Regions from separate parts of the Homo sapiens genome. Here region 1 is linked to region 2. Evidence: fine-mapped expression QTL. Tissue or cell type: monocytes. Region 2 holds a variant in brackets; the other region holds the start of a gene. All regions are shown on one strand. Distances are from middle to middle.

Region 1 (8,229 bases), 60 kb before region 2:
ATACAAAGTAAATGCTCTGTAGATCATTGTTATATTATTTTCAAATTTTTTAAAAAATATTTTTGATCCATAGTTGTGGTTGCAGAACCCAGTGGATATGGAGAGCTGAGAGCACCTTGGTTTTCTTCTGTCAGTTGCCCTGTTGTTTCTCTCTACTTTCTCCTGTTGATGCCACACAGGTCTCGTAGCTATTGGTGGTTTGTCCCCACTCCCTCCTATATTTTGTTATAGTTGGCTATAGGCCTTTGGTTTTGCTATCTATTTTGTGCGCCCCCCCTTTTGTTTTCAGAATACACATTCTTCTCAAGGTCCATTTTTAAAATTAGGGGAATTCAGGGAAAAAAAATTTGCGACTGCTGTTGCCATGTTTCCACTATTTCTTCATATTTTATTTTTAGGCTAAAAAATGTTAGAATATTATTAAAATGCACGAGAGCCTATTTTGCTGGATTTGAGATTTTTGTATTGCTTTACTCTGATTGTAAGGAAGGATTGTGTTGAAAAGCCGAGGTTATTATGAGAGACAATGAATGTTGGAGGCATTCTCTGATGATTTAAAGAAAGAAGTCGGTCTGGAAGACATTATGTGTTATGAAAGAAAAGGTATGTGGAGTCTCAAAGGATGACACAAACTCCCATACAAGAGAGGATCTGACCTGACGAATTGTATCAGTCCCTGGAGAGGGATGTGTGTTTTTCTCCTGATTGTGAGTACATCATGTAGCTTTCTGGACAGATTCCCAAAACCTAAAGCCATGCCACCAAAAGTTAAGTGTGTTAGGACCATCTCCTTGGTAAATAAATACAAATGTAGATTTTCTCAATATACGGTCTAGCATAATGAAAAATAATTATCCTTATTTTAATATGAGAGTTCCTTTCTGATAAATTCAGAGAGTTTCCCACATAATAGTTACATTAAAAAAGGAAACATTGCAGTGAAGTACATAGGCAGGCACTATAATGCCTATTACAGAATGCAGAAAATAAATTCCTCATTCATTCATACATTTATGCAATCAACTATGGTCATCCAAATGTACTGGTTATACTATATCAGGTCATGAAAGTCAGTGTATAAAAACGTTGCTTTTAAAAAAGTAATTAAAATTAGTCTCAATGTTGAGATCCTGTTCTTTTTCAAGAGAGAAACAAATTAGTCAATTCTACATGTATTTCTATTACCCACAAATCTCTCCTGTCTCCAAGTCATTTCTGGCTAATATCTATTCACTTCAAAATGATCTGCTTCCCCTTATTTTTCTGAGGATAACCCTAAAATTTGGGGTGGGGTTGGGTGAAGTGGGGAGGCAGGTGGCAAGAGGAAGTAGACATCAGTGCAAACACGCCTTGGCTTTGACCTCAATAGGCGATGTCTATTTTTTCTCTGCTATCAGATCAGTGCTCTGTTCATTCAGTTCTATCCTTCCCCTTTCCGACCTGTAGGCTCATCAGCCCCCTACAGCTGTCAGCTCCCTTGAATAGTCTCTAATGCCATAAATACTAAAAAAAAAAAAAAAAAAAGTTTAGGGGCATTCCTCTGGCTGAAACAGTTCAGGCTAACATCCTACTCTCTTTTGACTTATTGAGGCAAAACCCTAGACCTTGATTGCTTTTCTGATCCCCACTGGGAATAGAGCTCAGATGCCCCCAATCTCTAGATCTTCACACATGTGGGAATTGTATTATTTCTAGCTCCACAGTTTCTTTCAAAGGAATCCCAACGACTGGGTGTGTGTGGCTGGTGGGTGGGTGGGGATTTATAGGCCTTTCTTTGGGACATACACCAATATCTCTGGGGAGAGAAAATTGGTTCCCCCATCTTTGTGGCAGATTGCATTATTGTTTACAATTAACCACACAACCCCCACTCCAAAAAAATTACAATCCATGCCCATTGCCATGTGATTTGCCTATGAAAGAAGTAGACTTCTCCACTTACTTGGGGTTTGGCCATATGAAAGACCTTGGCCAATGGGATTTGAGTAGACATGTCATGAGACATTAGAGAAGCAGCTTTAAGAGGCTTCACAAGTTTCTAACAGCTTTCTGGCTCTTCCCATCTCCCTTGAGAATTGCCAAGTTCTACATAGGGGCAGCTTCTTCAGCTTGGGCACTGGATTGAGGAGACCCATGGAGCAGAACCTCAGCTGACCCAGCATGTAATACAAATAAGAAATAAACCTTTGTGGCCATCAGCCATTTTTTTTTTTTTCAACCGCAAAAGTGATGAATATATTGTTTGTGGCTTTTTTTCCTTTCACCTCATGTGCTGAAACTCATGAAGTCCAGCCAATTCTAAACTACAAACTCTGACTTATGAGACTACTGTCACTGCCATGAGCTTCAAATATCTATTACACAAGCATCAGATTTGCCTTTTCTTTCTCCCCGAGGCAGGGAAGGAAATGCCCTAGCTGTCTGAGAAGAGTATGTGAGCAGAGAACATGGAATTGTTCAGATTTTCATCCTGATGGACAAGAACACATCAAACTATCAAACATAAAACTTGAAAACTCCAAGACATTTATCCTTCCTGGACTCAAGGTATTTACAGGGCAGAGGAAATATCTCTTAAGTAATTATAATGTGGGACAACAAATAGTGTGTCATCAAGGTGTGCGGAGAAAAGTGCTGTGGGACCTCATGAAAGAAGAGGCCTGGAAGGACAGGTAGGATTTGACAATTCAAGGGGAGGGGAGAGAAAGCATTTTGTATTCAAGATGCAGACAGAGCTAAATTACAGAGGCAGGAAATGAAGGGGCATGGATGGGGGTGTGAGTGAAATGATGAGGGGAGACTGGTGGAAGGTCAGATCGGAAAGGCTCCGCAAGGCCTACTTGTGGTCCTAGATAAGGAGTGTGGACTGTGAAGTTCTAAGACTGGCTAAAGACCATATAGAAAAGGGGCTGGAGAGTGGATTTTAGCAGCATTTATTATTTTAGAAACAATATAGCCCTTTAAAATAGTGACACATAAAGTAAATGTACCTATACAGCTGGAAAAACAATTCAGGTGATGGATTACTCTCCCCAAATGGCTGGTGTACACTGTGTGTATATGTTTGTACTTCATATTCATTGTACTTATGAAGTCTTTTATGGTTTGTTGTTGTTGGTATTGGATTGGTGCATTTTTCAGCCAAAGAAACAGCCTTGATTTCCTGCAGTTGTTTCCCTACTAATAGGGCACATCTTACTATACTTAGATCTCCTTGGCATTTTAATTCGTGTTTTAAAAAATAACCACACAATAATGCAAATGTACTTAATGCCACTGAACTGTACTTTTTTTTTTTTTTTTTTTGAGACGGAGTCTCGCTCTGTCACCCAGGCTGGAGTGCAGCGGCGCGATCTCGGCTCACTGCAAGCTCCGCCTCCCGGGTTCACGCCATTCTCCTGCCTCAGCCTCCCGAGTAGCTGGGACTACAGGCGCCCACCACCACGCCTGGCTAATATTTTTGTATTTTTAGTAGAGATTGGGTTTCACCGTGTTAGCCAGGATGGTCTCGATCTCCTGACCCCGTGATCCACCCGCCTCGGCCTCCCAAAGTGTTGGGATTACAGGCGTGAGCCACCGCGCCCGGCCTGTACTCTTAAAGTAGTATATTTGTTATCGTTTGCCACACACAAAAATAATACCCCAGCAGATCTTCATACGAGTTAATTTACGCTATAAGTTTAGAGCCGGAATTTCCTCAGCTCATCACTCAGTGTTAACATTGAAGATGTCCAGGTTGGTTATGAAGGATGTGACATCCTAGCGTTGGCCACTCTTTTCCTGGTCCTTCCTGTCTTGCAGGTGAGCCTCTGGGGGTCAGGAGAAAGTCTCCTCTATCTCCTGCTCACTTTCGTGTAGGGGAGGGAAGGTGTGTGTGTGGGTGGGTGGGGGCGTTTTGTGTGAGGGAGGCCGATACTGGGCAGGCAGCCACGCTCTTCTTCCTCCATCCTGGGGCGGAAGTGGGGAGAGCAGCAGTTTAAAGGTTCTGTTGCAGCAGTTTAAAGGATCCACTCAGCCGCCTTAACCGCCAACCAGCAGGCTAAGGGAGGAACAGAATGAACAATGTTTGGATCCCAATGACTGGAGATGAAAGTTGCAAAAGCTCTGCCCAGGCTTCTACCAAGGATTAACTTTCCAGGGCATCTGCTGAACTGCTCTTCGGGGCTGTCTGCTGAGATTGGCGGCGGGACCCTCCCGCCTCTCACTCGTGCCTTTGTTCCCCACGCCGGCCTAACCCCGCGCCCCTGCGCTCGCGGCCAGGGCACCTGACCCACGCGCCGCCCGCCGGGGATGCGGGAGCCGCCACTGCTACCGCTGCCACCGCTGCCGGGCCTGCTCCGCCAAGCACATGCGCAGTGGCGACGCCGAGCCGGCGCCCTCAGTCTCCTCCTCCACCGCCTCCCGGTTCCGCAGTCACTTCCTGCAGCTGTTTCCCTGTGGGTCGGGTTGGACTGACTTTTGACAGTCAGCCTTCGGCTGCGGAGGGGGCTCGGCGGCGGCCGGCGGAGAAAGTTGCTCCGAGAAGAGGCTGGGTCGAGCTGGGCCGAGCCGGGCGCGCAGGGCGGGCGTCGCGGGCGTCCCGGGCGGACGCGGCGCGGAGACTGCCGGCGCGTCCCGGGGGTTCCGGTAAGTGCGGGCGATTGGGAGCCGCGGAGCTTTCAGGACGAGCCCCTGGAGCGCCGGGGACTAGCGGTTCCTTTCCGATGCTCTTTCCATCTGCCCTCCACGTGACAGGGCTTGCGCTGCTTCTATTTATCAGTTTGCTTGTTTCAGGCATTTCACGTGGACCAGGTGGATCATCTGTGCGTGCAGCTGCCTTGGCCCTCTCAGTTGCCCCCGCCCCGTGGGAGTCGGGGGATTCCATCCTTCGTGATGGCATCCATACCGGGTTGAGGTGCGTGTGTGGGTTCGTGTGTATGCATGCACATCTTAGGAATGTAAGGTGGATGTGGGCGACGCTGAACTGTCTGTAGCTTTGATTCAAATCTGTAAACAGTTCTCTAGGATTAGGAACCGTCACAGCGGAGACTGAAAAACATTCGCCAATTCACCAAGGCCTCTTCCCCAGTTTTCTGCGTTCTTTTGAGCCTTCTTTATAGGATACACCTTGCCTCAAGTGATTATTATTATTATTTTTTTTAACTTTTCTCCCTCTCATTCCTTCTTGCTGCGTTCTGATGACCTCTGAGTAATGCTCGCTGCCTTTCCCTCATTTCCAGAATTCCCAATTACAGACTTACCTAGTTTGCTGAGGTGCTCCTAACCTGTTCCTTTATTCTATTCTCTTTCCTCTGTAGATTTCTCCAAATGAGACAAGAGATTGTCTTTAACACAGTATGTGAAGAGTAGGCCCCAGTCCAATCATTAAAACTAAGTATGCTATGACAATTAATTTTCTTTAAACAGGGTACCTTGTGAAGCTTTGATTTTCTTTAATGTCGTCTTAGCTCCTTTCCAAACCAGGACATTAACCAGCATAAATCCTTCATTTATGCCATCGCAAGCATCAAAGTGACTGGTTTTTAAGATTTGAAGAATATTTATGCCAGTCTTCAAATTAGTCCCTTTTAAACCAATGCAACAGTTGAACAGATCTGAGTTGCATGTTTTGGGTCTCTGTATTCCATCATTCATGCATTCACTGAAGACTTGGTTTTATTCATTTTAAGATTTATATTTTATACTAATTTTTGTTTGCAAATGTACTAATATTTGATGCAATTGTCATACATAGATTTTTTTGAGGAGTCGACATTGTGTTGATTGTTAAATATAACAAGAAATAAATTTGGGATATCAAGCTACTCTTTAAAAATTGTAAAGATCAAATGTGATAATGGGTAAATCTGTGTTTGGCAAGAATTTTTTCTTTAAATCAGGTAACTGTCACCTCTGGTAGGAGGCCTTTTGTGCCTCTGTTCTTTGAGAAGGATCTTTATTTTGAGGGAAACCTGTAGATAACACTGGGGGAGACACATGCTAGAATTTCCTCAAGTGAAAGTGAGCTTTCATAAAACAAGTCCAGACATGCCTAGGCAATTGGTAGCATTTGATTTTCTGTTTATATTGCTGATTTCCTTTATCCAGAGGTTTTGACACCCCCCCCCACCTTTTCACTAATGAACTAGCAGAATGTTTGTGGCAATTTGACATCAGTAGCTTTTCAACATTATGAATTATTATTATTAGGTAGTTAAACTTTTTAAAAGCTGTTCTTTGTCTACTTAGTTCCGTTTTCTAAAATGACCATATCTGTCTTTGCTTTCTGGACTATCTTTGCTTGATTCAATTAAGAGAAATAATACCATTACAGAGAACCTGACTTTTTAAATGTTAAAACTCTATATTGCTTTTCTTTTATGTTCCCAGAGATATGGGCAGTACACTTCTGCTTAAAAATTAAATAATATTATCATTTTTCTAAATTTTGTGATTAATGAGAAGTATTGTTAAATTCTATGACTAATACTTATGCACTTTGTCCTTAACTACATTATTTTCCCATCACGCTGATTTCCTTTGTTGCCTCCCCACCCCAAATTTCGTCTGAAAGTTGTTACTTGATTTTCAGGTGCTGTGTAGTTATCAAATATGGTAAAATAGACTTTAACTTTTCAAAATTTACTTGATTCATTTTAGTAATTCTATTATTGCCATAATGTACACATTTCCATTGCAGATGGAAAATTTCAGCAGCTTAAAATAGCCATATTCTATTGACCAAGAGAAGAGGTTTTAATAATACTGTATTGAGAGAGTGGAGGGAATTGTGGATTTTGAAATAAGGATTCTAATTTGGGTTAATTAGAATCTTGGGAACTCAAAGGGTGTACTGTGGTTCATTTTGAGACACTCAGGGTTAGACGGCGCCATCTGGGGGGGAGGCAGGAGACATTATGGATAAAGATTGAAGAGGGAGAGGAACATTTTGGGTCTTTTCTGAGGGAATTATAATAGAGACTATCAGTTATTTGTTAAGAAGGAGGAGGGAAATAGCCTCAAGATTGAGGAACTGGAATTATACTGTGGCTTATGGTGGTGTGATCCATTACTCCATTGGACATTTCCTTGATACCTTATTTTGTGTAGGTAATTTACCTAGAGAAGGAGGAAAAATTTGGGTTTTACAGGGGCTGATGAATATAATCTAAGGCTGTATGAGGCAGGGCTGTAAACTCAAGAGCTCACAGAGAACAGGCAAGTAACAAGTACAGGCAGCAGCTGAGTGGGGACTGAGGTGTCCCAGAGAAGGCAGGCCTCGCTAGAGGGCACAGTGCCTCTGAGCACTAACTAGCTAATTGCGTCCCATATAGGAATGTGGGCCAAGTGATGCCAGATCATCCTTTTTCAAGAGAAGCCATGAATCTCTTGATTTTTAAATGCTAACAACTAATTCGACTTAAAAAAATGAAAACAAAACTGTATATTCCAAACAGCACATCTGTGGCTGTATGTGGCCCACAGGCTGTTTGCCACCTCTGCTATACATTTGCTCAACTACTTAAATATTGCTAGTTGATCAGAAGGAACATATTTTATTTATTTCTGTCATACTTTAGGCTACTCCTAGAGTTCCCTGAAATTTTAGCTAGTTCTATAAGTGCTTTAAGAATTCTGCAAGATGATATTCTTTTATACACTCTTTTTGATATTGGTTGGTTGGAAGATATGTTTGCTAAGATTTTTAGCTGGTGGTCTTTTTTTTTTTTGAGTCACAGTCTTGCTCTGTCACCCAGGCTGGAGTGCAATGGCACGATCTCGGCTCACGACCACCTCTGCCTCCCCGGTTCAAGCGATTCTCCTGCCTCAGCCTCCTGAGTAGCTGGGATTACAGGCACTCGCCACCACACCTGGCTAATTTTTGTATTTTTAGTAGAGACGGGGTTTCACCATGTTGTCTTGAACAGGCTGGTCTCGAACTCCTGACCTCAGGTGATCTGCCCACCTTGGCCTCCCAAAATGCTGGGATTACAGGCGTGAGCCACCACACCTGGACAGCTCGTGGTGTTTTTGTCTGTGCATGATTATCATTAAGAGTGTTTAAGTGTAAGTGTGCCTGAGGGAAGGGGTCTGGACTAGGTGACATTTGATGTCCATTTCAGCCATGTGACTTTTAGATTTAGCCGTGGATGCAATGCTGTTAATGTTCACGGGCCAAAGGGATAGCAGTTGGAACTGTGCCAAGCAAAATAAAGCCAAATCTATAAAGCCATTCTCAGTGGAAGAGCA
Region 2 (8,229 bases):
AGATGTAAATTTGCCACTGGAAGAAATACACTCCACCATAGGCAGTCTATAACTTATGCTTGGCATTTTGGATAAATCTTTAAGTATGTAATTAGAGCTTCAAATGTGTTTTGGCTGGAAGTTGTCCCTCTAGACAGGAACAAGATGCCTTTCATATTAGCTTCAATTTTTCATCTTTGCTGATGCCAGAGGCACCTCTCTAACCCTGTTTTCTAGAAATCCTTACTAGGTTATGGACTTTGACCAACGGTATCTAGTGCCACCTTGTGGACTGTCTAGATTTTACAGTTAGCAGTTTGTGGTTGGTGAACTAACTTTAAAGCAGGATGTTTGGTTGAAAACCACCTTGTGGAGGATATGAGTTTTTATCTGTAAATAAAACAAGTCATGCCTTTAAGAGATACTGAGGACTGTTTTTGCAGCTTAAGTCTGTAAAGGATGACAGAGTGGGAAAGTGTTGAATTGGAAATCAGGATCCATATATATGTATGGATAGATATATATGCACAGGCATGTGTGAATGTCTCATTTTTTGTGATTATTTAAAAACGTCTATTTTGTTTAAAAAAATCTGTTCTCTACATATTCGGTTATGTGAACAACAACAAACATGGAAATTAAAATAATGGTCAATGAAGGCCCCAACCAGGAAGTAAAGGACTAGAAAAATCTTTCATCAAAGAAGACTTGAAAATTTAAAAACACAATTATATACAAGGGCAAATGTTACCAAACATGGAAATCTTGCTGACATAAAAATTAAACTATAAAATATTAAAATTTTCCCAAACATAGTTTATTTTTGGGGAAAACAATATTTTCTGCTTTAATAAGCTAGCAATGAAGAAAGAGACTTTTTTAAAAAAGTAGTTTTATTAAATATTTCAAACATTCAGAAAAAGTACATACTGGGTAACTGGTCTCAGTTCTGTCACCAGTGTGTTCCCTGGCTTGTCACTTGACCTCTTGAAATTCAGATCCCCATAACTGGGGTATTAGGGGTGGATCTAGTTATTTCTTCTTTATTCCTCTCTTTCAGTACTATGGATAATTTAGAAGATTGCTGTTTTCAAAAAGAATTGTTTTTTTTTTTCGAAATACATAAGTCCTGAACTCACTCCTGAACTCCATGCTGCCATGTCCCCCCTGCCCAGCGGCAATTGATCGCGGTTAGCAGTTTCTTGAGTCTTTTCCAGATAAAGTCTATGTAACGTGAATGGAGGCATTCCATCCCTACTGTTCTGTTCATCACCTTGGGGTATGTGTGTGTGTGTGTATGTGTGTGTGTGTGTGTGTGACCTTGGCAAGCATTCCATACCAGCACATGTGGATCTATTTCATTGTTTTTCATTCTGTGGTGTTTCCTTGTATGATTTCTAAAATTTCTGTTATTGATCCTCTATTGATGGACATTTATGTAATAATAATTTAAAAAAATTAAACCCTTAAAAATAGCAAAACATATAAAATTTACCATTTTAACCATTTAGTTTACAATCATAATCACTCTCCATCTCCAGAAATTTTTTATCTTCCCAAACGGAAATTTTACTCATTAAACAATAACTCCACATTCTCTCTTCCCCAGTCCCTGGTAACCACCATTCTACTTTCTGTCTCTATGATTTTGACTACTTGAGGTACCTCATATAAGTGGAATCATATGACAATTGTCCTTTTGTGTCTGGCGTATTTCACTTGGCATAATGTCCTCAAGGTTCATCCATGTCGTAGTATGTATCAGAATTTCCTTCATTTTTAAAAATTATTTTTAATTAGGGATATATAATATTGTACGTATTTATGGGGTACATGTGTCATTTTGATACAAACATTCAATGTGTAATGATCAAATCAGGGTAATTGGGGTATCTTATCACCTCAAGCATTTATCAACTTTCCTTCCTTTTTAAGGCTGAATAATATCCCATTGCATGTATCGATGACATTTTGTTTATTCATCCACTGATGGACACTTACGTTGCTTCTACCTTTTAGCTATTGTGAATAATGCTACTGTGACCATAGGTGTACATAGCTGAAGACTTGGAAAATTATAAATTATTTTATATATGCAAAGTGTATAAAAGTTTAATTTTTTTCACTGAAGCTTTGATAATTTGAGTCTGTAAAACAAACTGACCATGGATTAACAGGAAAAAAGGCATACAGATTTATTAATGTACATATGGGCATGGGAGTCATACAAAATATGAAAAACTCAAATGTCCAGACAGCTGATGCTGTAAACCAAAAAGTATCTGAGACAGATCTCAATCAACTGAGAGTTATTTTGCCAAGGTTGATGATACACCCAGGAAAAAAAGCCACTAGCCACAATAGAATCTGTGGCCCACACTTTTTTTCCAAAGAGGATTTTGAGTGCTTCCATATTTAAAGGGGAAAACATGGGCAGGAGAGAAAAGAAGTGTAGATGAAAGAGGCAAGAAGTTGCAATCTTTTGAAGATTTCATCAGCGTTCAGTGGATCCACATTTTACATGTGAAAGGAGAGGGTAGAGGCATTTGTCTCATGCTCAGTGAATCTACGTTTTTACATAAGATAAGTAAACAGAATAGAGGAAGCAGTCAAATATGCATTTGTCTCAGGTGAGCAGAGGTATGACTTCTGGTTCTATCCTTTGTCCCGTTCTTCTGAAGATAAATTGTTTGTTATTGTCAGGGTGAAATTCAACAGAACTGTTTTAGGGTAAGGATCTTGAGGGCCCACAAAAAATTTGCTCGTGAGCAAATTGCGAGGGAGGTATGTAGGTAGTCTTTCATCTTTGTAGCTGTTGAGGAACAAAATGGGAGGCAGTTTTGTGTGACTCAGTTCTCAAGCTTGACTTTTTCCCTTAGGTATGGTGAATAGGGGGTCCCAAAATTTTATTTTCCATTCACAACTCTTTAATACTATCTTGAGGTTACAGAAAGAATAGGGGCTTGAAGCTTGTCAAGACAGGTTATGGTGGCATGAGAGGTTATGGGAAGGAGAGAAGAGGCAAGGTGTGCTGCAAAGGTGGTCTTGTTATGCAGATGATCTCACAGGTAGCAGCCCTCAGAAAGGAAAAATGGGAGGCCAGGTACGGTGGCTCATGCCTGTAATCCCAGCACTTTGGGAGACCAAGGCAAGTGGATCACCTGAGGTCAGGAGTTCGAGACCAGCCTGGACAACATGGTGAAACCCCGTCTCTACTAAAAATACAAAATTAGCTGGGTGTGGTAGCGGGTGCTTATAGTCCCAGCTACTTGGGAGGCTGAGGCAGGAGAATAGCTTGAACCCGGGAGGCGGAGGTTGCAGTGAGCTGAGAGCACACCACTGCACTCTAGCCTGGGCGACAGAGCAAGACTCCATCTCAAAAAAAAAAAAAAAAAAAAAAAAGAGATGGGAGCCTGTGGTAGATGTTTCTATAAAACCTTTAAAGGTGTCAGGCTCTCAGTTAATCTTGCCTTGTTCTGGACAAGGTGGGGCTTCAGAAAAAGCCTGTTTGCATCTGTTGTTTACTTCACTTTATTTCCTCTAGAGATGCAAATCCCCGTAAAAGACTCAGCTTTGCAGGCTGATTCTTGTGTTGCAGGCCCTCTGAATAGTCATCTCAAAATATGTCAAAGAAGTATATTTTGGAGTGAAACATTTCTTAGTTTCCTTTAGTCCCCCACTTGAAACTTTAGAACGTTTCGCTTATTAATGTTTGGGCGCAGTGGCTCATGCCTGTAATCTCAACACTTCAGGAGGCTGAGGTGGGTGGATCGCTTGAGCCCAGGAGTTTGAGATCAGCCTGGGAAATATGGCAAAAGCCCATCTCTACAGAAAAAAAAAAAATAATTAGCTAGCCATGGTGGCACGTGCCTGTAGTCCCAGCTATTCAGGAGGCTGAGGTGGGAGGATCACTTGAGCCTTGAGGGGGAGGTTGGAGGATCACTTGAGCCTTGAGGGGGAGGTTGCAGTGACCTGAGGTTGTGCCACTCTATCCTGAGTGACAGAGAGAGACCCTGTCTCAAAAAAAAAAAAAAAACACAGAAGTGTCACTTATTAAAGTAGGATTGGTAGCTATGGAGAGATTTGGGTTAGAAGTTTTGAGATAAGAGGGAGCAAAACAAATTGGGATAAGCAGAAAAGAACAAATATAAGTATGTCATGCCATATCTTCTTGAATCCGTCTCTTAGTTGTGATACTACATCAGTTAAACTGTTGTTTCCCATTGCAACAGGTGGCATTGCAGATGGGCTCTCAAAGTTAGGCCAAACATCTTTGATAAGAGACATTTCTATGAAAACAGAGAAAAATAACGTTAACATTTGGAACAGCCTATAAATTAGTTTCTTTAGAGTCTGGAGGGCAGTCAGTTGAGAAGATGGCCAGATTTGGGTTAGAAACATCTTCAGTTGAAACAGACAGGCAGTGGCAATCTGGCAGATTTTCCTGGGTTGTAGTTTTTTTTTTTTTTTTTTTT[A/TA]GTTTTTGTGGGTACATAGGTGTATACATGGGGTACATGAGATATTTTGGTACAGGCATGCAATGCATAATAATCACATCATGGAAAATTGGGTATCCATCCCCTCAAGCATTCGTCCTTTGTATTACAAACAATCCAATTATACTCTTTTAGTTATTTTAAAACGTACAGGTAAATTATTATTAACTATAGTCAACCTGGTATGCTATCAAATACTAGGTCTTATTCACTCTTTCTAACTACTTTTTTGTACCCATTAACCATCCCCACTTCCTCCCCTCCCCTCACTACCCTTCCCAGCCTCTGGTAACCATCAGTCTACACTCTATCTCCATGAGTTCAATTGTTTTGATTTTTAGATCTCATAAATAAGTGAGAACATGCATTTATCTTTCTGTGCCTGGCTTATTTCACTTAATATATTGACCTCCAATTCCATCCTTTGTTGTTGCAAATAATAGAATCTCATTCTTTTTTGTGGCTGCAGAGTACTCCATTATGTATAGGTATCACATTTTCTTTATGCATTCATCTATTGATGGACACTTAGGGTGCTTCCAAATTTTGGCTATGGTGAACAGTGCTACAACAAATATGGGAGTACAGATATCTCCTTGATATACTGATTTCCTTTCTTTTGGGTATATGCCCAGCAATGGGATTGCTGGATTGCATGGTAGCTGAATTTTTAGTTTTTTGAGGAATCTCAAAACTTCTTCAAAGTGGTTTTACTAATTTACTTTCCCACCAACAGGGTATGAGCGTTTCCTTTTCTCCAAATCCTCACTGGCATTTGTTATTGCCTGTCTTTTCTATATAAGCCATTTTAACTGGGGTAAGATGATATCTCACTGTAGTTTTGATTTGCATTTCTCTGATAATCAATGATATTGAACACCTTTTCATATGCCTGTTTGTCATTTGTGTTTCTTCTTTTGAGAAATGTTTGTTCAAATCTCTTGCTTATTTTAAATCAGATTATTAGATTTTTTTCCTGTAGAGTTGTTTGAGCTCCTTATATATTCTGGTTATTAATCTTTTGTCAGATGGGTAGTTTGTAAATATTTGCTCTCATTCTGTGGGTTGTCTCTTCACTTTATTGCTTGTTGCCTTTTCTGTACAGAAGCTTTTAAACTTGATGCGATCCTCTTTATCCATTTTTGCTTTGATTGCCTGTGCTTGTGAGGTATTACTCAAAATTTTGCCCAGAACAATGTCCTGGAGAATTTCCCCAGTGTTTTATTGTAGTAAATTCATAGTTTGAGGTCTTAGATTTAAGTCTTTAATCCGGTTTCGTTTGATTTTTATATAACACAAGAGATATAGATAAAATTTGTTCTTCTGCATATGGTTATCCAGTTTTCCCAGCACAATTTATTGAAGAGACTGTCTTTTCTGTAATGTACACTTTTGGCACCTTTGTTGAAAATGTATTCACTGTAGGTGTATGGATTTGTTTCTGGGTTTTCTATTCTGTTCCATTGGTCTATGTGTCTGTTCTTGTGCCAGTACCATGTTGTTTTGGTTACCATAGCTCTGTAGTATAATTTGAAATTAGCTAGTGTGATTCCTACAGTTTTGTTCTTTGCACTCAGGATAGCTTTGGCTAGTCTGGGTCTTTTATGGTTTCATAAACATTTTAGGATTGTTTTTTCTATTTCTGTGAAGAATGTCATTGGTATGTGAATAGGGATTACATTAAATCTGTAGATTGCTTTGGGTAGTGTGGACATTTTAACAATATTGATTCTTCCAATCCATGAACATGGGATTTCTTTCCATTTCTTGGTGTCCAATTTATTTCATCAGTGTTTTATAGTTTTCATTATAGAGATCTTTCACTTCCTTGGTTAATTCCTAAGTATTTAATTTTACGTTTGGCTATCATAAATGGGATTACTTTTTAAATTTCTTTTTCAGATTGTTCACTGTTGGCATATAGAAATGTTACTGATTTTTGTATGTTCATTTTATGTCCTGCAACTTTACTGAATTTATTTATCAGTTCTAATAGTGTTTTGGTTGCGTCTTTAAGTTTTTCCAAATGTAAGATCATATCATTTGCAAACAAGGATAATTTCACTTCTTCCATTTCAATTTGATACCCTTTATTTTTTTCTCATATCCGATCATTCTAGCTAAGACTTTCAGTACTATGTTGAATAACAGTGGTAAAAGTGGGCATTCTTGTTGTGTTCCTGCTCTTAGAGGAAAGGCTTTCATTTCGTTTTTTTATCTGTTCAGTATGATACTATCTGTGGGTCTGTTATATGTAGCTTTTATTATGTTGAGGTGTATTTCTCCTATTCCCAGTTTTTTTGTGAGTTTTTATCATGAAAGAATGTTGAACTTTGTCAAATGCTTGCTCAGCCTCAGTTGAAATAATCATATAGTTTTTGTCTTTCATTCTGATGATATGCTGTATCACATTGATTGATTTTTATATGTTGAGTCATTCTTGCATCCCTGGAATAAATCTCACTTGGTTATGATGAATTATCTTTTTAATATATTGTTGAATTAGGTTTGCTAGTATTTTGTTGAATATTTTTGCATTAATATTTATCAGAGATATTAGCCTGTAGTTTTCTTTTTTTGATGAATTTTGCCTGGTTTTGACATCAGGGAATACTGGCTTTGTAGAATGAATTTGAAAGTATTCCCTCCTCTATAATAGTTTCAGTGGAATTGGTATCAGTTCTCCTTTAAACATTTGGTAGAATTCAGCAGTGAAGCCATTGGATCCTGGGCTTCCCTTACTGGGAGATTTTTTTATTTTTTTTTTTTGGTCTGTTTGGGTTTGGGATTTCTTCATGGTTTAATTTTTATAGGTTGTATGTGTCTAGCGTTTTGCCAGTTTCTTCCATATTTTCCAATTCATTGCCATATAGTTACTCAAACTAGCCACTAATTATCCTTTGCTTTCTGAGGTATCAGTTGTAATATCACCTTTTTCATCTCTGATTTTATTTATTTGAGTCTTCTCTCTTTTATTCTTAGCCTGGCTAAAGGTTTGTCAATTTTGTTTAACTTTTCAAAAAGCCAAATTTTTGCTTCAAAGATCTTTTGTATTGTTTTCTTCACTTCAATTTCATTTATTTCTGCTCTGATCTTTATTATTTCTTCTACTAATTTTGGATTTGGTGTGCTCTTGCTTTTTTAGTTCTTTAAGATTCATTGTTATGTTGTTTATTTGAATTTTTCTACCTTTTTGATGTTTCTGGCTATAAATTTCTCTTTTTGTACCACTTTTGCTGTGTCCCATAGCTTTTGGTATGTTGTGTTTCCATTATCATTTTGTTTCAAGAAAGTTTTCAACTTCCTTCTTAATTTCTTCATTGATCCACTGGTTATTCAGGATCATATTGTTTAATTTCCATGCATTTGTATAGTTTCCAGAATTCCTCCTGTCACTGATTTGTAGTTTTATCCCATTGTTTTTAGAGAAGATGCTTGATATTATTTCAGTTTTTTTGAATGTTTTATGACTTTTTTTGTGACCTAACATATAGTTTATTTTTGAGAATGATCCATGTGCTGAGAAAAAGAATGTGTATTCTGCAGCCATTTGATGACATGTTCCATAAATATCTATTAGATCCATTTGTTTTATGGGGCAGATTAAGTCATATGTTTCCTTGTTGATTTTCTGTACCATGCTAAAAATGGGGCATTGACATCTCCGGCTATTATTGTATTGGAGTCTATCTCTCTTTAGCTCTAATAATATTTGCTTTATATATCTGGGTGCTCCAGTGTTTTGTGCATGTATATT

The links. PIP is the estimated chance that this variant, and not a neighbour inherited with it, causes the effect.
Region 1: it holds the start of ZMAT3, and the variant in region 2 is fine-mapped to the expression of ZMAT3 in monocytes (Fairfax 2014, PIP 0.95).

The regions. Positions count from the first base shown.
Region 1 is chr3:179,067,992-179,076,220 of GRCh38, reverse strand. ZMAT3 (zinc finger matrin-type 3) reads left to right here and starts at 4,412. Exons shown (of 6, transcript NM_022470.4): 1 at 4,412-4,626. RefSeq lists silencers at 3,986-4,395, 4,536-4,685.
Region 2 is chr3:179,007,746-179,015,974 of GRCh38, reverse strand. No RefSeq gene overlaps it. Among named protein-coding and RNA genes, the nearest start is that of ZMAT3, 60 kb to the left of the region's middle. The variant A/TA (reference allele first, on the strand shown) is at 4,455.